Linked DNA regions of Homo sapiens: regions 1, 2 and 4 are each linked to region 3. The links come from fine-mapping of genetic effects on gene expression. A gene starts in region 3. Each other region holds a variant in brackets. All regions are shown on one strand. Distances are between the middles of the regions.

Region 1 (5,146 bases), 38 kb before region 3:
GCCTGAGTTCTTGTCCTGTGTCCAGGAATAATGAGGTACTCGAAGAACTTACTGAGTGTTAAGCAGCTCAGAGAAGACCCGCAGTGGGTAGCTCCTCTGAGCAAGTCATCCCATGGAGTGTTCAGCTCTCAGCAGACAGGAGGCCTGGAGAGGGTAGCTCCCCCTCTGCCCACTGGTTATCCTGCCACCTGCTGCTCTCAGCAGAAAGAAGACCCAACCCTGGAGAGGGGAGCTGCTCTCAGCAAAAAGAAGACCTCACCCTGTAGAGGGGGGCTGCTCTCAGCAGAGAGAAGACCCAACCCTGGAGAGGGGGACTGCTCTAGGGGATCCTGGCGGGGGGTGCTCCTGGAGAAGGAGGCTGTTCTGGGGGATCCTCTCCTCAGGTCATTTGGAAGTCTCTACAGGAGGAGGGGGGCCTCCTCTCCGCAGGTCCTTTGAAAGGCTCTGCAGGTCTCTGCAGCTCTGGCAGAGAGGGTAGCTCCTTTCTACAGCTACTCTTCCCGCTGTCTCTCCATCCTCTCCTGCAGTTTGGCTGAGCCCAGGGCTTTTATGGACCTCAGAAGGGAGGAAGTGTGTGCTGACTGGCCCATGGGCGGCCATGGGTGAGCCTGGAGGAGGCACCACAAGCTCCCACTCAGGTCTGTGGGACTGGCAGCCTGGTCCCCAGTCTTCAGTCCCTCCCTGACCTGAAGGTGGGGCCTTACTGGAGACCTACCCCCTTCTGCCCAGGAATCGATCTGCCTCCTACTGTCATTCATGGCCCCTGGGGCTTGGCCCCAAGCCCTGCTCCATGATCAGAGCAGGGGCGGCAGCAGAGAGAGGCCAGGCAGCAGGAACAGACACCCCCTAGCGACGGGGTGCGGTGGGGTCCTTTCTGGGGTCCACGAGGGTGCAGGCTGCAGAGACCCTCTGGGTCCTGCACCTAGGAGGGCAGATCTTGCCTGCTCCCAGCCCCCTCCAAGAGCACCGGGAGGCTCGGATCCACAGCCGCTGTTTGGGCAGTTGTAGCCCCGCCCAGGAGGGTGGCGACCCTGCCTGCTCCGTAAAGCAGGAGGCCTGGATCTGCAACTGCTGTTTGGGCGGCTGCAGCAGCACCTGGGGAGCTCTCCCCAACTCAGAAGGGGGAGGCATCCACCAGCATGCAGCCCCAGCTGTGCCTCCCTGCCGCAGCCCGGTGATGGCAGCAGCTACTGCAACAATAGTGTAAACAGTGGCCGGGCGCGGTGGCTCACGCCTGTAATCCCAGCACTTCGGGAGGCCAAGGCAGGTGGATCACGAGGTCAGGAGATCGAGACCATCCTGGCTAACACAGTGAAACCCCGTCTCTACTAAAAAAAACACAAAAGAAAATTAGCCGGGCGTGGTCGCGGGGGCCTGCAGTCCCAGCTACTCAGGAGGCTGAGGCAGGAGAATGGCGTGAACCCAGGAGGCGGAGCTTGCAGTGTGCCGGGATCGCGTCACTGCACTCCAGCCTGGGCGACAGAGCGAGACTCTGTCTCAAAAAAAAAAAAAAAAAAAGGGTAAACATTTTGAACTGTATGCATTATTATATCAAGGAGTAGCATATCTTGCATGAATGCTCTCTTTTGTGTCTAGGTATTCTAAACACTCTTAATGTGAAAATGAAGTGCATGTAGCAAAAACCTTTTATTATAAGAAACTTTACAACACTTGTGAAAAAAATTAAATTTGGTTTGTGCACAGTGTAACCTTTCTCCAGATATTGTCCAAAATTACACACGCACAAACCGTTCACCCTAATTAGGCGTTGGCCTCAACCTAAACATCTGGGACTGTTATCTATTAAACTGCTGCCAGAATCTTACATCCAGTTACCTCCACTTTCTAGAACATATTCTCTAATAATGCCATAGAAACCAATTTCTACTCCATACTGATGTTTTTTTGCAACAGCAATTAAAATTTTTTCTTCCAAAAAACCCCATTGTTCTGGGACAGGATTCATTGGTTTCATCAGATGCCTGAGACGTCCACAGTGTAAAAAAGGCCAATTATTCTAGCTTTATAGTCCCAATGCTAAGGTCATGCCAATGATCCCATATGTCTGGCCCTCTGGGGGAATGTGGTGAAAGTAGGTACTTAATACATCCTTTTTGAATGAATGGTTTGGAGTTCTTGTCATAATTATAGAATTATAAAGCTGGAAAGTCTTTAGAAAGTCTTTATTACAATGATTTTCAAAGTGTTTGGCCATGACTCATAGCAAGAAATGGATTTTCACTTGTGACCCAGTAACCGCATGGGTGAAACAGTTTTTATAAAACATGATGTAACTTTACTATGTATGATGCACTCTTATATCTTCTATTCTACTTCTTTCTTAATGTATTCCATTTCTCTTTTTTGAGATGATTAATTGAATTTTTATCCAAAACAACTGGCTTCAATTGAAAATTATTAGTAGCAGATTTGGGAGCAAGTAAACAGAAATGGAAAGCCTTAGTATTTGGCTTAATTATTCTAAAAGCACACTGATCACATTTATGCTTTTTTAATTTTAAATTTTAATTAAATTTTAAGTTAAAAGGCATAAATGTGATCAGTGTGCTTTTAGAATAATTTGAAGGTGGGGTATTTAAAGTTAATGTGTAGAAAAGAAAAAAAACCTTACATAACCCCAGATCACACAAATTAAAATTCACTTAGTCATACAGTTGTGAGCACTTTTGACAGCCAAAATTTCACCCTTCTTAAAGTAGGAGTCTTTCAAAAATACTTCTTCATATTCAAAAGCTAAAAGTTAGAGTGAAGATGGCCCAATTATCTCGGTGTGGGAGAGGTTACATAATAATCTATTTCCAAAACCCACAAAAACCCGTAAATGTCACCAACAAAAACAAA[G/A]CAGCAGATTGGCCAAAACTAAGGCAACTGGTTATACAGGAAGGCAGCAGGTCACTCATTTAACTGCTAAAAGCCATTGCTTTGTAGTACTAATGTTAATTCCTTTCCACACTTCAGGAACCCACATCCCAGCCATTGCAGGGTCAGTTTCTGTGTATTTAGCTCTGTGGAATGTGCCCGAACACCAGTCAGCACTTAAGTCAATCTAAGTTTGAAAATCAGCTCACTGGCTTCATGATATAATTTGTACATTCTTCCTTAGCTTCAGGGGCACATGCCTGACCCTGGTCCAATAGATCCAGAATGGTTACAAGGATATCTTGACTTATAAGAGATGCCACATAAGAATTTTGACAATTCAGTCTTGAAGTCTGCTCACTTTGACCCAAACTTTTTAAGCCAGTGACATGCAGAGGGTCCACTGGGGCTGGATGAAATTTCTATGGACAGAGATGTCACAGAGCTGGGAAGGAGAGAAATAGCTCTCCAGTCAATGTGACTGAGAAAAATTAGTCATATCACTCTGAAACATGTGAACTTGAGGGTTAAGGATGCTGGCATGCAGGGAAGTCATGTGTGCAGCAGAAGAGCTGCAGGATGTCTTCTCTTTTGTGTTAATGTGAGATTACTGAGGACAAGAGAATAGGTCCTGGGAGATGTGGGTGTATTTGCCAATTTCTCACCACACATAGCCTCCTCAAAAAGCCCCCAAAGATGGCCAGGTGCAGTGGCTCATGCCTGTAATCCCAGCAACTTGGGAGGCAGAGGTGGGTGGAGCACCTGAGGTCAGGAGTTTGAGACCAGCCTGGCCAACATGGTGAAACCCCGTCTCTACTAAAAAAAAAAATACAAAAAAAAATTAGCCGGGTGTGGTGGTGGGTGCCTGTAGTCCCAGCTACTGGGGAGGCTGAGGCAGGAGAATCACTTGAACCCAGGAGGCAGAAGTTGTAGTGAGCCGAGATTGCGCCACTGCACTCCAGCCTGGGTGACACAGCAAGACTCAGTCTCAAAAGAAAAAAAAGCCCCCAAAGATGAACTTCACCTAGTTGTAAGTGGTCTAATAGTCCTCCGTCTCTCTCTCTATATATATATTTGAACTTCAAAACTAGTTTTTTCGAAAAATATTTTTTAGAGCCAGGGTCTCACTCTGTCACCCAGGCTACAGTGCAGTGGCCCAATCATAGCTCACTGCAGCCTCAAACTCCTGGGCTCAAGTGATCCTCACTTCTGCCTCCTGAGCAGCTGGGTCTACACGTGCACACCACTGCGTCTGTAACTTTAAAATTTTTTGTAGAGATTGGGTCTCGCCATGTTGCCCATACTGGTCTTGAAATCACGGCCAGAAGCAATCCTCCCCCCTTGGCCTCCCAAAGTGCTGGGATTACAGGAGTGAGCCACCACATCTGAGCCACAGGGCGGCCTCCATAATGGGGCATGAGCCTCTTCCCATCTTTTTTTGTTGTTGTTATTCGAGACAGTCTCACTCTGTTGCCCAGGCTGGAGTGCAGTGGTGTGATCTGTGCTCACTGCAACTTCTGCCTCCAGGGTTCAAGCGATTCTCCTGCCTCAGCCTCCCAAGTAGCTGGGATTACGGGCACATGCCACCACACCCGGCTAATTTTGTTTTTGTTTCTGTTTTTTTTTTTTTTACTTGAGACGGGGTTTCACCATATTGGCCAGGTTGATTTCAAAACTCCTAACCTCAAGTGATCCACCCACTCCGACTCCCAAAATGCTGGGATTACAGGCATGAGCCACCACACCCAGCCCCATCTCTTTTTTTTTTTTTGAGACGGGGTCTAGTTCTGTTCCCCAGGCTGGAGTGCAGTGGCGTCATCACGGCTCAATGTAGCCTCAACCTCCAGGGCTTAAGCGATCCTCCTGCCTCAGCCTCCCAAGTAACTGGAACTACAGGCATGTGCTAATTGTTTTTATTTTTAGTAGACACGAGGTCTCTCGCTATGTTGCCCAGGCTGGTCTGGAAACCCAGAGCTCAAGCAAGCCTCTCACCTCGGCTCCCAAAGTCCTGGGATTACAGACGTGAGCTACTCTGCCTGGCCCTCAAAAAAAAAAAAAAAAAAAGTCAGTTGACAACCTATTAAACTGATATCTGTCACGTTAATGGGTCATGACTAGCAGTTTGAAAGACAAAGCTCGATTTCACTGAATTTATTTCAGCAACAGAAGTTATTAGCTTTAGTCCAATCTCAAAAGTACAAAATGAAATTGCAACACAAACCTCTAAACCTGCAGTTGCCGGAAGCTAAACGTCTGCGCTTCCGGA
Region 2 (5,146 bases), 290 kb after region 3:
TAGAAATGCTGGCTTTGAGGAAAGCAGGGACCAGGGCCTCCCCTCCTCCCCACCCAGGTCCAAGTTGACACTGGTGAAATGCTGTGACCTCTCCCCAGGGTCCCTTAAAGCACCTGTCAGTCCGGAAAGGTTCTTAGAGTTCTTCAGGTCAACCCTCTTGGACAAGCTCCAGAAGCTACCCTCCAGTGCCCCCCCACCACCTCCTGAGGGTTCTTCTGCCCCACCCTATACTCGCATGGCCCTGGCCTCTGCCCAGCCTGCCCTCCACTTACAGCAGCACCCTTCTTCCTCGGCGTGGAAGCTGGCCTTTAGAAGGCAGGCTCCTTCTCCGAGTCACTGTTCCTGAACCCAGGAGGGCTTGGTGCCCCTCTCCCCATTCCTACAGACCCACGAGGACTGCATGCCTCAGTGCCAATCATCCCCAACTGTCATCTGTCCATCTCCCCATGGTGTGAGGGCCTGGAGGACAGGCACCTGGAGGTCTGTCTCCTTTACCACGGTCCCCACACACAGGGCCTGATGGACATGGAGTCTGTGGACACAGCAAGAACGAGTTTGGATTCAGCCCTGTGGGTCTACCTGGCTGGATAAGCATCTATATGCAGGAAGCCAAAGGGCTTCAGGACCAGCTAGGATGAGAGGGTGGTCTGTGAGTGCCTCTGCGACGCCCCCAAGTCCTAGAAACACTGCCTGACTGTTTGGCACTTTCGGTGAATCTCACTCATTCTGTCCCCCAACCTGCTTGGGTGGGGCCCATCCTGTCTCTCCTGTCCCACCCCCATCAAGGAGACCAAAGGCTGCAGGCTGGAAGACAGGCTGCTGCCACCCTCCCCACCTCCGCACACCCTCTTCCTTCCACCTCCTGGGCCTTGGGAGGGCCCTGCTACCTGACTCCCAGGATGCAAAGGTGAAAGTGCAAAAGGACCTTGGGAAGAAGGGGTTATTCTTCCTCCCAAACGCCCCTCCATTGGGGAGGGGCCCGCTCCCCTGGGGAGGCACGTATTGCTCTGCTTCTGTCTGGCTCTCCCTGGTGCCAAGGCTCTGGGAGGCCCCGGCTGGCTCTGACTCTCACCCTGTCCTCTCACCCTCACCCCAGGCCCCGAGCCAAGTCCCTCAAGCATTCCAGCAGCTGAATGAGGACAGACTTGTCTGTCTGTCTGTCCTAGAACCAGGCTGTTGGGCGGCACCCTGGGTCGGGGCAGCTGGGAACAAGCCCTGGGGGTGCTGTGGGGGCAGCTACTATTCTGATTTTCTGAAGCCATTCTCTCATTCTCTGCCTCTCTCTGGGGAAGGAGACACACCCTCCTCCCCACCTTCAGGCCACTTCCCTGGTTCAAGTCCATCCTATCTATCACTTGGTAACAGTGGAAGGAATAGTAATGAGTGTGCGTGAAATGCTTACTGTGTGGCAGGCACTGTGCTAAGCACTGCATGCGTTTTCTCACTTATTCCTCATATCACATGCACAAGGCAGGCCCATCATCATGTCCATTTTTTGAGGCTTAAGAGCTAATATAACTTGTCTGCCAACACAGGTAGAAGCCTGGGCCACAGTCTAGGTTCTTTTTTTTCCCCAAGACAGTCTTGCTCTGTCGTCCAAGCTGAACTGCAGTGGCATGATCTTGGCTCACTGCAACCTCTGCCTCCCAGGTTCAAGCAATTCTCCTGCCTCAGCCTCCCGAGTAGCTGGGATTATAGGCATGCACCACCACACCCAGGTGATTTTTGTATTTTTAGTAGAGACGGGGTTTCACCATGTTGGCCAGGCTGGTCTCGAACTCCTGACCTCAAGGGATCCGCCTGCCTCAGTCTCCCAAGGTGCTGGGATTACAGGCATGAGCCACCATGCATGGCCAGTCTAACCACCAAACAAAACTCTTCTCTGCTTCCAATCCCCCCACCCCAGTACTCCCTCTTCCACTGGAGGCCAGCATCCTTGCTCTTACATCGCTAATGGACCTAGTCACATCCCTGCTTAAGCCCCATAGTGAGTGGACTTCTAGAAAAACATGGCACGTTGAGCAGACAGATTTATTGCTGCTCCCTTCCAAAACTCCACTATGATGACAGTGGAGGAAATAAACAAGGCATAAATCCATAAGGGGTGATGATGGGTAATGAAGGATGTCAACAAGATTCTGGAAGCTGGGAAGCAGATGGCCAGG[T/C]AGTAGCTGACTTGGTAGAGTGATAAAAGCTGAGAGCCAATTGCCTGCAGGGAGGAACCACCCAGAAGGAGAAGCCCGGAAAGGCTCAGGAATGGAGTTTCCAGGGACCCCTCAGGGCCTTAGTGCCAGGAGGGCTGAAGACAGTAGGGCTGAAAGTCTGTAAGAACCGATCAGACCCTAGATCCCCTCCCCAACCCTGAGTAGCCAAGTGATGGCCACCTGCCACCCAGCAGAGGGCCGGGGATCACTCCCTGGGGAGGGTGAACCAGGAGGCTCTGGCCCAGGAATGGTAGACATACATGAAGGCCCAAGGCAGAAGGACCTACAGAGAAAAGGGGACAAGCAAAAGTCTATACATTGAAGGGTAAGAAACATGCCAAGCCCCTTCCCCACTTGGATGCTGCAGCCAGACATACACTCTCCCAGGAAAAGTCGAGAGGATTGTTCTCTGGGGAAACTGGTTCACTCAGAAAAATGACCTCAGTGACTGACATTAGAGGATCTTCCCAAAATAGCCCCATCTGAACCAGTCTTTCAGCAGAGACTTGGAAAAGTCCTGCCCAAGTCCACAAACTGCCCAATTAGTGTCTCTGCATCTCCTTGCTATATATGAAATACAGCCAATGCATTTTAAGAAAACTTTTTTTTGAGACAGTTTCTCTCTTTTGCCCAGGCTGGAGTACAGTGGCGCAATCTCGGTTCACTGCAGCCTCTGCCTCCCGGGTTCAAGCGATTCTCCTGCCTCAGCCTCCTGAGTAGCTGCGATTACAGGCACCAGCAACCGTGCTTGGCTAATTTTTTTTGTATTTTTGTTTAGTAGAGATAGGGTTTCACCATGTTGGCCGGGCTAGCCTGCCTCGGCCTCCCTAAGTGCTGGGATTACAGGCATGAGCCACTGCACCTGGACAAGAAAACTGTTAACATGAAACAAATATGTATTTTTAAAATAACCCAAAGGAAAGAAAAACATTTCAGGGAACAGAAGAAAAAAGTCAAATCCATGTAAGTAATAACCTCACAGAGATAAGAGAACATACTGTACCCATGAAACAAGAATAGGATCAAAAGGTGCACAGATTGAGCATCTCCAATCCCAAAATCCAAATGCTCCAAAATCCAAAACTTTTGAGCACTAACATGATGCTCAGAGGAAATGCTCTTTGGAGCACTTCAGATTTTGGACTTTCAGACTGGGGATTCTGAACTGCTAAGTATAATGCAAATACTCCAAAATAAAAAAAAAAATCCAAAATCTAAAACACTTCTGGTCCCAAGTATTTCAGATGTGAACTCAATGTGTATTTAGTGAATGAGAAAGTTTAAGAAATTAAAAGTACGATGAAAAAATTCAAAAATTTAATAGGATTGTAAAGTAAAGATGAATCAGATACCTCCTAGAAGACAGAAAGAGATGGCTGGGCATGCTGGCTCACGCCCGTAATCCCAGAACTTTGGGAGGATGAGGGAGGAGTCCAGGAGTTCAAGCCCAGCCTGAGCAACATGGCAAAACCCCATCTCTACAAAAAATTGAAAAAATTAGCTGGGTGTGGTGGCACACACCTGTAGCCCCAGCTACTTGGGATGCTGAGGCAGGAGGATCTCTTGTGCCTGGCAGCTCGAGCTGCAGTGAGCCATGATTGTGGCACTGCACTCCAGCCTGGGCAACAAAGCAAGACCCTGTCTCAAAAGAAAGAAAGAAAGGAAACAAAGAAAAGAAAAGGAAAGGAAAGGAAAGGAAAGAAAGAAGAAAGAAGGAAGGAAGGAAGGAGAAAGGAAAACAAAGATGAAAAATATAAAACATTTAAAAATAAGAAAGTGAGAAAATAGGTGAATATTAAGGGTTCCAAAAAGAGAAAATGTAAGAAAGTTATCAAATAAATAATACAACAACAGTTCAAGAACCGAAGGGCACAAGTTTCTAGATTAAAACAGTCCAATGAGTGCTCCCTCAAATTAAAATAGGCCAAGGCATATATTGTAAAATTTAAAATCACCAAAAAGAGAGAAAGAGAGAGAGTCCTAAAAGCTTCCAGATTTTGTAAAAGGTCACATTCAAATCAGAATGGTATGGGACCTCTTCAGAGCAATGTTGGAAGCTAGAAGACAACAGAAAAATGCCTTCAACATTCTGAAGAAGAGTCACTTTCAACTCAGAGGTTGATATCAAATCAAAATATCAATCAGATGTGAGCAAAGAATAAAGACACTTTGAGATGGGCAAACCATTTACCTCCATGCACTCTTTCTCAGAAAGCTACTTGAGGATGTGCTCCACCAAAACAAATTAAAAAAAAAAAAAGGTACCTCCCCATAAAAAAAGTAGCATGGGATCCAAGAAACAGGAAGACCCTCCATAAATATTTTGGGGCAGGCCTAGAAAGCATCTAGTCTAAACTAGAGGACCGAGGGAAGTTGGGAGGAGGGTCCAGGAAAGAAGGGAACTGCTGGATTATCTGGTAGGGATTACCTTTGGGAAAACTGGATTAAGAGACATCTTATAAAACTATTAAAGGATCTGGAAGGCCTGGAGAAGCAAGGAAAACAAAGCACAAAAAAAACTGTTCTTAAAAAGAAATGCCATCTAGATGGGGCACGGTAGCTCATGCCTATAATCCCAGCACTTTTGGAGGCCAAGGTGGCAAATCACTCGAGGTCAGGAGTTCGAGACCAGCCTGGCCAACATGGAAACCCCGTCTCTACTAAAAATACAAAATTAGCTGAGTGGGGGCGGCAGGTGCCTGTAATCCCAGCTACTTGGGAGGCTGAGGCATGAGAATCACTTGAACCCAGGAGGCGGAGGCTGCAGTGAGCTGAGACTGCACCACTGTACTCCAGCTGGGGCAACAGAATGAGACTCTCAAAAAACAAACAAAAAACAGAAATGCCATCTTATTACAACACTTAGTTCAGCCATCAAGATTTACAGCCATAATAATGAAAACGTGGAATGTGGACTTAATCCAAATATGTTAACACAAAAT
Region 3 (5,146 bases):
GAGGCAGCCTCCTGGAAGATGTTTTAGCTGAGAACTAAAGAGTTTTATCCCCTTCCATGAAGGTAGAGGAAGGAAAGTATTCCTGGCAATGGGCACATCACAGAACCCTTCCCTCCAAGCTGATGGGCCTGCCAGACCTCACTGCCAAGGGCCTCATTTATGTGACACTAACTCAGTGCCTGGCTATGAATAAATATTAGTTTAAAACAAACCAAACAACCTGCCCAGACAGGTATAGACAGGGTGAAACCTACACATATGTAGTACAGGTCAAGTCTAATTTTTTAAAAATAAAAGCTTCAGAACAAAAGCATATTCAGCTCTAACTGTATACACAGAGGCATGAACTTACTCTTGTGAGTGCTGAGATTTGACCTGAATCCAGGGTCAGGCTTTCCCACATGTCTTTAGCCAGCTTGCTGAAATGTGAAATTAGAAGCCTACAAGCTCTCCTTAAAGGAGACTGTCAGAAGCGGACCACAATGAATGTAGGGAGCAGGTGGATGAATCACCAGCACCATGTAAAACGCCAGTGCCTTTAAAAGCTACAGTAAGCCATCTAAATATAGATGAGAAAGAACGCAAGTGAGTAACAGACAAATGGTCTTACAGGAAAGCATTTTAAACTTGTGACAGCCACATTCAGCACATGTGGCTAAATATAAATATTCCATCACTGTTGCCATTCAGCCAACCGTCCTGAAGTAGCTTTCTCCAGCTTGGAACAACTAACACAGACAGGTATTTTGATTCCAGCGTCGTTTCCACAGGTCTTAAATGCTACATGGGTGATTGGTGTGGTTTCAAACGTGGCCCAAGTGACACTGCTATCAGCTACTATAACGGCCCCACCTCTCAAGACCCATGCGGAACAACCAAAGTTTTGTAAGAAAATGGCAAGAAGTGAAAGGAGGAACGGGAGGGTTAGCAGCCTTTCCTTGCAATGCCTCATCCTTCAATTCACCTATTCAGGTGGGTCATGAGCCTCTTTAGAGATAAAAAGCAAACTTTCTGTAAACAGGATGGAAAAGCTTTTAACTTCTGTCTCTAAAATGCAGAGCATTTTCAGTCTATGATTGGTACTTATGATCAACTGTGTGTCACTTGTCACCGAAAACCCAGAATATGAGTACAAGCTGATGTCAGGTTGCAGATGTCCGTGTCCCTGTTTAATAAAGAAAATGGGATTATTCACTATCTGACGCTTTTATCAGGTAGGCAGTAGGTGCACAGAACAAATCCAGCTAGTCATTCTCAAGAGAGGCACGGCGTTTGTCCAAGGTACCAGCTCAGATTAAAGACACTCATCCCTAGGGTTTATGCATCAACAGAGAATATGAGCCAGTCGTTCCCAGCAAGTAAACAACTGTTTGTGTGTGCCTCAGTTTCCCGATTCCCAGGCCGCCTCTCCCACAGGGAACCAACACACCCTATGAGAACTAGTCCGGCGCGCACGGCAGGGGCTACCCAAACACTTGTGGAGCGAATGGAGGAATGAATGGGCTCGGCAGGGACTCGCGAGGGACCCAAGTGCCGCACCACATGCCTCCTCCGCGGGCGAAGCGCCCTCCACCGACCGCGCCGCACGGCGCCCAGGGTCTCCCGCCACCTCTGCCCGGCCTGGCCCCGAGGCGCCTGGCGACAGCCTCCCCAACAAACGCGGCTCAGGTTTCCCGTCGCCTTCAATGCTCCTGGCTTAATAACCCTTGGCCCCTCGGGAGCCCGGCCCGTGCCCCGCGCCGCCCCGCACCTTCTCGCCCTCATCCGGGTTCTTGTCCGGGTGGTACTTGAGCGCCAGCTTCCGATAGGCCTTCTTGATCTCCTCCGGGGACGCGCTGGGCTTCACGCCCAGGATGTCATAGTACTGGGTCTCCTTCACCATCTTGTGTCTGCGGGGGGGGCGGGCGAGGCCGGTCAGAGCGCCCCGGACGCCCCTGCCGGCACCCTGGCCCGCGCCCCTGGCCCGCGCCCCCGCCGCCCGCTCGCGCGTCACGGTCACGGTCGCCGCCGCCGCCGCCGCTTGTAGCTCCCGCCCGCCCCCCGCCCCGCGCCGGACCGACTTCCACGCCTGGCTCCACCGCACTAGAGCCACCGGCTCCTCCGCGGCGGGTTTTATTCGGCGCCGGCGGAAGCTTCCGCAAGGAGACGGTGACGCCACAAAGGCCTAGAACCTTCGCGGAGGTTCCGGCGGCCCCGCGGCGGGTTCGCGGCCCAGACCCCCGACGCCCGTCCGGCGCGGCCCAGCCGCTCACCTGGGCTTCTCGGGCGTCTGCTCCTTTGGCTGCCCGTCTGATTCCCCGGAGCTCCAGCTCTGACTGCCGCCCCGGGCCATGGCGGGGGCCGGAGAAGGCGGCTTGGGCCTGGAGGGCGCCCTCCGACAACTGTCCCGCCGCCCCGAGGCCGCCCCCTTGCCCTTCCGTGGGTCCGTGGAGCCGGCTGGCTGGAGAGTAGGCGGCCTGGAGGGCTGTGTTGGCCGGAGCCCTGCGCCGAAGGGTGGGACTGGGAGAGCTGCGCCCTGCGGTCCCCACCCGGCCTCTCCCCGGGGGTGTGGCCGCCGTCTGTTCGGTCACAGCCAGGCTGCGGCCTAAGGTGTGCCTGGGATTGTTGCATTTTTTAGGGGGTTGGAGTGGGTAGGGGCCCTCTGCTGCCTCATGACTGCAAGGCTGAGGTGAACCTCTGGCCTTCCAGTTGAGGTACAGGGGTCCTTTGCTGGCCCCAGATGTGGACAGTATCCTCTCGAATGCCCACCACTGGGAACCCTTAAGTCCCTCAAGGTGAGCAGTGACGTCCCCCACATATGGGCAGTGACGCCCCCCAAGTCTGCCAAGGGCCGACAGTGCCCTCTCTTCTCCCAGAAGTGGGAAACTGCCCCCTCTCCTCTGCACATCATCAGTGAGCAAACATCAGGGCCCGACCAGGCTGTTGGGCCCAGTGTTATGCACAGGGGGTCCCATGGCCTGGACCCTGAAACGGCTAGGTGGCCCAGGATGCTTGCCTTGGAAGGGTACAGGAGTAGGTCCCGACTTCCCTAGGCTGCCCCCAGCTCCCAACGGGTGCTCAGGGAGTCCAGATCACAAACCGTTGCAGAAAAGTGGGCGTGGAAAGCAGGCCCCAACGCTATCACAGAATTGCAGGCCCCTGTCCCCTAGCCCTCCCTTGGCTTCTGCCAGGGGAACAGTTTGTCAGAAAGGGGGGTCACTGCTCACCTCCCTGGGATGCCCTGGCCTTGTTTTGGGTACTGTGGCTGAAGCAGGTACTACCTCTCCTCCATGTGTTCCATGGGGGTGAGAAGTGACTTGTACTGTACAAGAGAAATTAAGCTGCTCTTCTTGGAGATGTTGCTTTTTTTTTTTTTAAATTATGCCTTGTAGAGCAGAACCTTTAGGCAGAGAACTCAGAGCTAGAGGTCAGAAACTTTGTTTTCTATCCAGATCTTACTGTCTGAGCCTTAGCATCTCAACACTTTTCTTCGTCAGCAGGACATGGGGATTGCCACTTGCCTGCCTTTCTCACAGGGCTCTTATAAGCATCAAATGGGATGATAACTGTGAAGACTCCTAGCGCAGTGGGTCTCAAACCTGGCTCCTGACAGAGATCACCTGGAATCTTCTAAAAATCCCTCTGGGTTGCACTCCACACCTGTTACCTTAGAGCTTCTAGGGGTGAGGCCCAGGCATCAGTGTTTTTCAAGCTCCCCAGGTGGTACAGCCAGAGCCGAGATCCACTGCCCAGGGTCACATACTTGTCCAGATTTAGTACTCGGGACCATAGGCATTCGTAAAATGGGCATGTGCAGGAGAGGGATGGCTTAAAGACAGAGCCTAGAAACATAGAATGGAGCTATGCACTTTGGACGACAGTGAATTCTGGAACCAGTGAGACTTAGACCTAGGTTCAAATCCCAGCACTGCTACTTCTGGCTGTGGAACCTTGGGCAGACAACTTAACCTTTCTGAGCCTCAGTTTTCTTAACCTTTTAATGAGGATATTAATTATAACTACTTCATAACTTTGTGAAACACCTGGTATATAGTCACAATATTGATGCTTTTTGGGGGTGGGGGGGTGCGGGCAGGGGCTAAGGTATAGAAGCTGATAGTGATTCTCTTCTTGATGGAACTTAGCCAGGCTCCTATGAGCCCTCTTCTCAACTAGGCTTCAGTCTTGGCCTATAAAGACTGAACAGACAGCAACACAGTTTCTAATAATTCAACGTCACATCCTTAAGATCACCAGTTCCCAGGCTTTTTGGCACCAGAGACCAGTTTCATGGAAGACGATTTTGTCACGGACAGGGTGGTGGGGGTGGGCAATAATTCTATGATGAAGGCCTGGCGTGGTGGCTCACACCTGTAATCCCAGCACTTTGGGACGCCGAGGTGGGCAGATCACTTGAGGCCACGAGTTCAAGACCAGTCTGGCCAACTTGGTGAAACTCCATCTCTACTAAAAATACAAAAATTAGCCAGGGATGGTGGTGCTCGCCTGTAATCCCAGCTACTCAGGAGGCTGAGGCACAAGAATCGCTTGAACCCGGGAGGCAGAGGCTGCAGTGAGCTGAGATCACACCACTGCACTCCAGCCTGGGTGACAGAGCAAGACTCTGTCTCAAAAAATAAAAAATAAATAACAATAGGATTGTCTAGTAAAATCAGATATTTTTGGCCAGGTGTGGTGGCTCAGGCCTGTAATCCCAGCACTTTGGGAGGTCGAAGTGGGCAGATCACTTGAGCTCAAGAGTTTGAGACCAGCCTGGCCAACATGGTGAAACCCCGTCTCTACTAAAAATACAAAAATTAGCCAGGTGTGGTGGCACGTGCCTGTAATCCCAGCTACTCAGGAGGCTGAAATAGGAGAATCACTTAAACCCGGGAGGCAGAGGTTGCAGTGAGCTGAGACTGTGCTACTGCATGCCAGCCTGGGCAACAGAGAAAGACTCTATCTCAAAAAAGAAAAAAAAATGGAGGATGAAACTGTTCCACCTTAGATCATCAGGCGTTAGATTCTTATAAGGAGCATGCAACCTAGATCCCCCGCATGCACAGTTCACAGCAGATTTCAAGCTCCTGTGAGAATCTAATGCCACTGCTTGGTTCCTGACAGGCCACAGACCAGTACTGGTCCGCAGCCTAGGAGTTGGGGGCCC
Region 4 (5,146 bases), 23 kb after region 3:
TGTTCAATCAATGTAGTCATTTACAGGTGAGGAAACTGGGCTTCTGCGATGTGGAGGCTTCCCCCAGGGTCATGCAAGCTGGAACCAAGTCCTGTTGACTCTCAATCCAGTGTTCCTTCCCCAGCCTCAGGCCACTGCCTAAGGTCAGGGGCAGCCAGCGTGGAAGGTGCAGCCTGGGTAGCAACAGACATCCTCAGCTGCGTGGCTCTGTCGTGATGAGATCCCTGGAGAGTCATTCAAATCTCCATTTTTTTTGCCAATGAGCTGCCTCTGTCCCAATGTCCAGAGCATTCTCAGGCCCGAGGATACTAAAAACAGCGAAAACTTTTTTTTTCTGTTTTCTTTTTTTTTTTTTTTTGAGACGGGGTCTTGCTCTGTCATTCAGGCTGAGTGCAGTGCCACAATCTTGGCCCACTGCAGCCTAAAACTCCCAGGCTCAAGCAGTCCTCCCCGCTTCAGCCTCCTGAGTAGCTGGGATTATTGGCATGTGCCACCATGCCCAACTAATTTTTTTTTTTTTTTTTTTGTAGAGACAAGGTCTCTAGGCTGGTCTCAAGCTCCTGGACTCAAGCAATCCCCCCTCAGCCTCTCAAAGTGCCAGGATTACAAGTGTAGGCCCCTGCACCTGGCAATGAATTCTAACTGGATGTTTACATACCACTCTAAGTGCCTTCAGTAGACTTAACTCACTGCAACCTCATGAACTAGGAATCATGACTCCATTTTACAAATAAGAAAACTGAAGCACAGAGAGGTTAAGTCATGTATCCAAGGTCAAACAGCTTATAAGCATCTATCTCATCCCAGATGCTCTAGAAAACAGAGCCCAAGGCAAAGTTTATGTCCTAAGGCTTTATTGGAAGTGGAATTCTAGGGCACAAGAATCAGGGAAAAAAAAAAGACATGAGGCAGAAAAGGAAGGAAAGCAAATAAATAGAAGGTAGTTGCATTTCTGAGCTGTTCTTCATTGCACAAGGAAACATAGCTCTTTGCTATGTCATGTAGGTGACCCAGACAGGTTGTGTGTGCTGCACTTTGGACCATTCTGTTGAGGGGAGAAAGCCGGGGAACTTACGGCTGTCTTCCTATCCCCGGTCTCTCCACAGGAGGGAGCCAGTGCAGAGTGAGCCATGAGATTCACTCCCTCATAAGGGAGGTGGAGAAGGGGGATCCTTCCCAGTGGCAGAGCACCCCTCGCCCCTTTGTGTTTAGTTATTCACCCTGTCCTGCATTGCACCCATCATCTCGTGGTCCTTTTTGTCTCTGCTGGTTTCAGTTAGGGGTTCTGCCCCTGGTAATCAGGACTCTCCATTTTACAGAGGAGGAAACTGAGACTCAGAGAGGTGACTTGGCTTGGGTCATGGTGCAAATCCAAAAACCAGTGTGTTCCACCCCTGCCCTATATGGTGCAGATCTGGAGAATACGGGTCACGTGGCCCTTGATCCAGGTCTTTCCAGGTGAGAAAAGAAGGTGCCTCCTCTGCAGAGGTTGCCCAGACATCTGGGTTCCCTCCCTTCCTCCTCCTTCCCTAATCCTCCAAAGGCCTCCATCCTCCGTGGTCTCCATTGCCCACTCCCAGCTCAGTCCTGGCAGGTTAGAATCCTCTATGTGCTACGTTCTTCTGCCCCTCCTCTCAGGAAAGCTCTGCCCTGGTGACCCATAGCTCAGAGAATGTGAGTCCCTGGGAGAGGAGTTTGAATCTCCAAAAATCTCTGGGTTTTATCTATTTTATTTTATTTATTTTTGAGACAGAGTCTCTGTCACCCAGGCTGGAGTGCAGTGGTGCAACCTTGGCTCACTGCAACCTCCACCGCCTGGGTTCAAGCAATTCTCCTGCCTCAGCCTCCCGAGTAGCTTGGACTACAGGCACCCACCACCACGCCTGGCTTATTTTTGTATTTTTAGTAGAGACAGGGCTTTACCATGTTGGTCAGACCGGTCTCGAACTCCTGACCTCAGGTCATCCACCCACCTTGGCCTTCCAAAGTCGGGTTTTATCTAGAGCTGGAGGATACTCTGATCCCAGGACTCACACCCCACCCACTCGATGTAGACAGGGCCAGAGGGGACACAAATGCAGCCCAGAGCCTCAGCGCCCTCTGGAGCACAAGGGTCTCCCAGCCGGGCCCCAGACTCGATGTCCAGAGCACACTGTGGTGGCTGCCGGAGGCCTTCTGGGGGCAGGGGAGGAAGGACGGCTGTTTCTGGGGATGGAGGCAGTGGCGCAAGATCCCAGTCCTGTGGAGACCTGGGTGGGTGGGAGGCGCTCTGGCCAGCAGGGGTCAGCAGAGGCCCATTGTTCTCCTGCTCGTCCTGCACCCAGAGACGACTGCGAGGCCTCAATCCAGAGCCCCAGGTGCAGTATTTTGAAATTTAAAAAGAAAAAAAAAATCGTCTCCTGGTAATACATACGCATGATAACAAAAAAGTGGCCCAGAAAAGCTAATGCTGAAAACATACAGCAATGACCCTCCCACCCAAGCCTTTTTAAAGGCTTTTAAAAACAAAAACAAAACACTTAATATCTCTTTGTTGTGGGAGGCAGGCTGATTGCTTGACCCCAGGAGTTCAAGACCAGCCCGAGCAACATGATGAGACCCCCCC[CT/T]CAATCTCTCAAAAAGAAAGAAGAAAAGGTAGTTTCATGTTAATTTCAACATGCATTGGGAAATATCTGTATATATTTATATAACAAGTTCTTCAATTGCTTAGAATAAAGCTATTTCATTTTTAAATTATAAAATGGAGTTGAAAAATAGTAAATAATGTACTATACCCCTGGGGAAACCAAATATGGCAAAACTAATGAAGGTGGTAAAGAAATTGATTGGAAAATAGTGGTCTTGATTTTTTTTTTTTTTTTTTTTAAGAGATGGAGTCTCACTCTGTTGCCCAGGCTGGAGTGCAGTGGCGTGATCTTGGCTCACTGCAACTTCCGCCTCCCGGCTTCTAGCAATTCTCCTGCCTCAGCCTCCTGAGTAGCTGGGATTACAGGTGCACAGCACCACGCCAGCTAATTTTTTGTATTTTAGTAGAGATGGGGTTTCACTGTGTTGCCCAGGCTGGTCTCGAACTCCTGAGCTCAGGCAGTCAACCTGCCTCAGCTTCCCAAAGTGCTAGGCATGAGCCACCACACCCAGCCAATTCTTGAAGTTGAAAACCAGTGAGGGCAGCAATCACTTCGATGACAGTAGAGGCTGGTGCAGAGGCATTTGGCCTTACACGCATAGCAGGCACAAACTTCCTCAATCGACAAACTCAGGTGGGCAAAACTGCAGTTTTATTTTCTGTAACTCAATGGAAAAAAAATTTTTTTTACAGCTCTCCACCCTTCCTCCTAATGGCAGGACATTTAATCTGTTGGTTTTGAGAGACAGGACCAGCTGGATTTCCTAGGCCGACTGAGAATCCCTAAGCCTAGCTGGGAAGATGGCCACATCCACCTTTAAACACGGGGCTTGCAACTTAGCTCATACCTGACCAATCAGGTAATAAAGAGAGCTCATTAAAATGCTAATTAGGCAAAAACAGGAGGTAAAGAAATAGCCAATCATCTATTGCCTGAGAGCACAGCAGGAGGAACGACAATCGGGATATAAACCCAGGCATTCCAGCTGGCAACTGGCTACCCACTTTGGGTCTCCTCCCTTTGTATGGGAGCTCTGTTTTCACTCTACTAAATCTTGCAACTGGTGGGGCACGGTGGCTTACGCCTGTAATCCCAGCACTTTGGGAGCCTGAGGCGGGCAGATCACGAGGTCAGGAGATCGAGACCATCCTGGCTGACATGGTGAAACCCAGTCACTAATAAAAATACAAAAAAATTAGCTGGGCATGGTGGCGGGCTCCTGTAGTCCCAGCTACTCGGGAGGCTGAGTTGGAGAATGGTGTGAACCTGAGGAGGTGGAGCTTGCAGTGAGCCTAGGTCACACCACTGCACTCCAGCCTGGGCGACAGAGCAAGACTCCATCTCAAAAAAAAAAAAAAAAAATCTTGCAATTCTCTTCTGGTCCATGTTTGTTACCGCTCGAGCTGAGCTTTTGCTCGCCGTCCACCACTGCTGTTTGCCGCTGTCGCAGACCCGCTGCTGACTGCCATCCGTCTGGATCCGGCAGGGTGTCCACTGTGCTCCTGATCCAATGAGGCACCCATTGCCGCTCCCGATCCGGCTAAAGGCTTGCCATTGTTCCTGCACAGCTAGGTGCCCAGGTTTGTCCTAATCCAGCTGAACGCTAGTCACTGGGTTCCACGGTTCTCTTCCGTGATCCACGGCTTCTAATAGAGCGATAACACTCACCACATGGCCCAAGATTCCATTCCTTGGAATCCATGAGGCCAAGAACCCCAGGTCAGAGAACACAAGGCTTGCCACCATCTTGGAAGCGGCCCGCCACCATCTTGGGAGCTCTGGGAGCAAGGACCCCCCGACCCAATAAGAGTTTCGCAAAAACTCGGTCATTTTCAAGTTTAAACTTAGTCAAGTCCTAGCGTCCCATTTCTAGGAATTTATCCTAGAGATAGACTAGCTCAAGTACGAACCACGCAAGGATAAGATTATTCATCACAGCTTCATCTGTAACAGCAAAAGACTGAAAACAACCTAAATGTTCATCCTACAGAGCTGTTGAAATGCATCTCGGGCCAGCCCTTCCATGGAATGCTGTACCTACCCCACAAAAAGAGAACCAGGAAGTTCTCCAGGCAAAAATATGAAAAGTTCTCCAGCAAATGTTGTCAAGTATAAGAAGACACGAAACTGTGTATGCCATATGTTAGCATTTGTATATATCCAAGATATTTCTAGAATGATGCAAAAAAGAAATTTTTAACAGTGGTGGCTCTGGAGAAAAGAAATGAGTGAAGGATGGTGGGGAGAGGGACAGAAAAGTGGGAGGAAAATTTAATTTTTACTATGAAGCCCTTTGTACTTTTTAAAACATTGTATTGAGGTGAAATTCACATAACATTAAATTCACCATTTTAAAGTGTAGGATTCATGGCTGGGCATGGTGGCTCACACCTATAATCCCAGTACCTTGGGAGGCTGAGACAGGAGGATCCTTTGAGGCTAGGAGTTCAAGACTAGCCTGGGAAACATAGCAAGACCTTGTCTCTCCAAAAAAAATTTAAAAATTAGCCAGGCATGGT

Which allele goes with the higher level. Alleles are on the strand shown, and positions count from the first base shown. SD is a standard deviation of normalised expression in the study named. Not every link is listed here.
For the expression in fibroblasts of the gene that starts at base 2,084 in region 3, T is the high allele of the variant in region 2 and C is the other (small effect, 0.21 SD a copy in GTEx).

Evidence for each region.
Region 1: its variant is fine-mapped to the expression of DNAJA4 in whole blood (INTERVAL, PIP above 0.99).
Region 2: its variant is fine-mapped to the expression of DNAJA4 in fibroblasts (GTEx, PIP above 0.99).
Region 4: its variant is fine-mapped to the expression of DNAJA4 in whole blood (TOPMed, PIP 0.98).

Annotation. Positions count from the first base shown.
Region 1 is chr15:78,299,798-78,304,943 of GRCh38, reverse strand. No RefSeq gene overlaps it. Among named protein-coding and RNA genes, the nearest start is that of SKIC8, 2.8 kb to the right of the region's middle. RefSeq lists enhancers at 4,938-5,027, 4,203-5,146. The variant G/A (reference allele first, on the strand shown) is at 2,863.
Region 2 is chr15:77,968,022-77,973,167 of GRCh38, reverse strand. No RefSeq gene overlaps it. Among named protein-coding and RNA genes, the nearest start is that of TBC1D2B, 110 kb to the left of the region's middle. The variant T/C (reference allele first, on the strand shown) is at 2,166.
Region 3 is chr15:78,261,500-78,266,645 of GRCh38, reverse strand. It overlaps DNAJA4 (DnaJ heat shock protein family (Hsp40) member A4), which reads right to left and starts at 2,084. Exons shown (of 7, transcript NM_001130182.2): 1 at 1,751-2,084. The coding sequence starts at 1,882. It overlaps DNAJA4-DT (DNAJA4 divergent transcript), which reads left to right and starts at 2,502. Exons shown (of 4, transcript XR_001751621.1): 1 at 2,502-2,589; 2 at 2,689-2,774. RefSeq lists silencers at 1,551-1,840, 2,151-2,230.
Region 4 is chr15:78,238,251-78,243,396 of GRCh38, reverse strand. No RefSeq gene overlaps it. Among named protein-coding and RNA genes, the nearest start is that of ACSBG1, 6.3 kb to the right of the region's middle. The variant CT/T (reference allele first, on the strand shown) is at 2,606.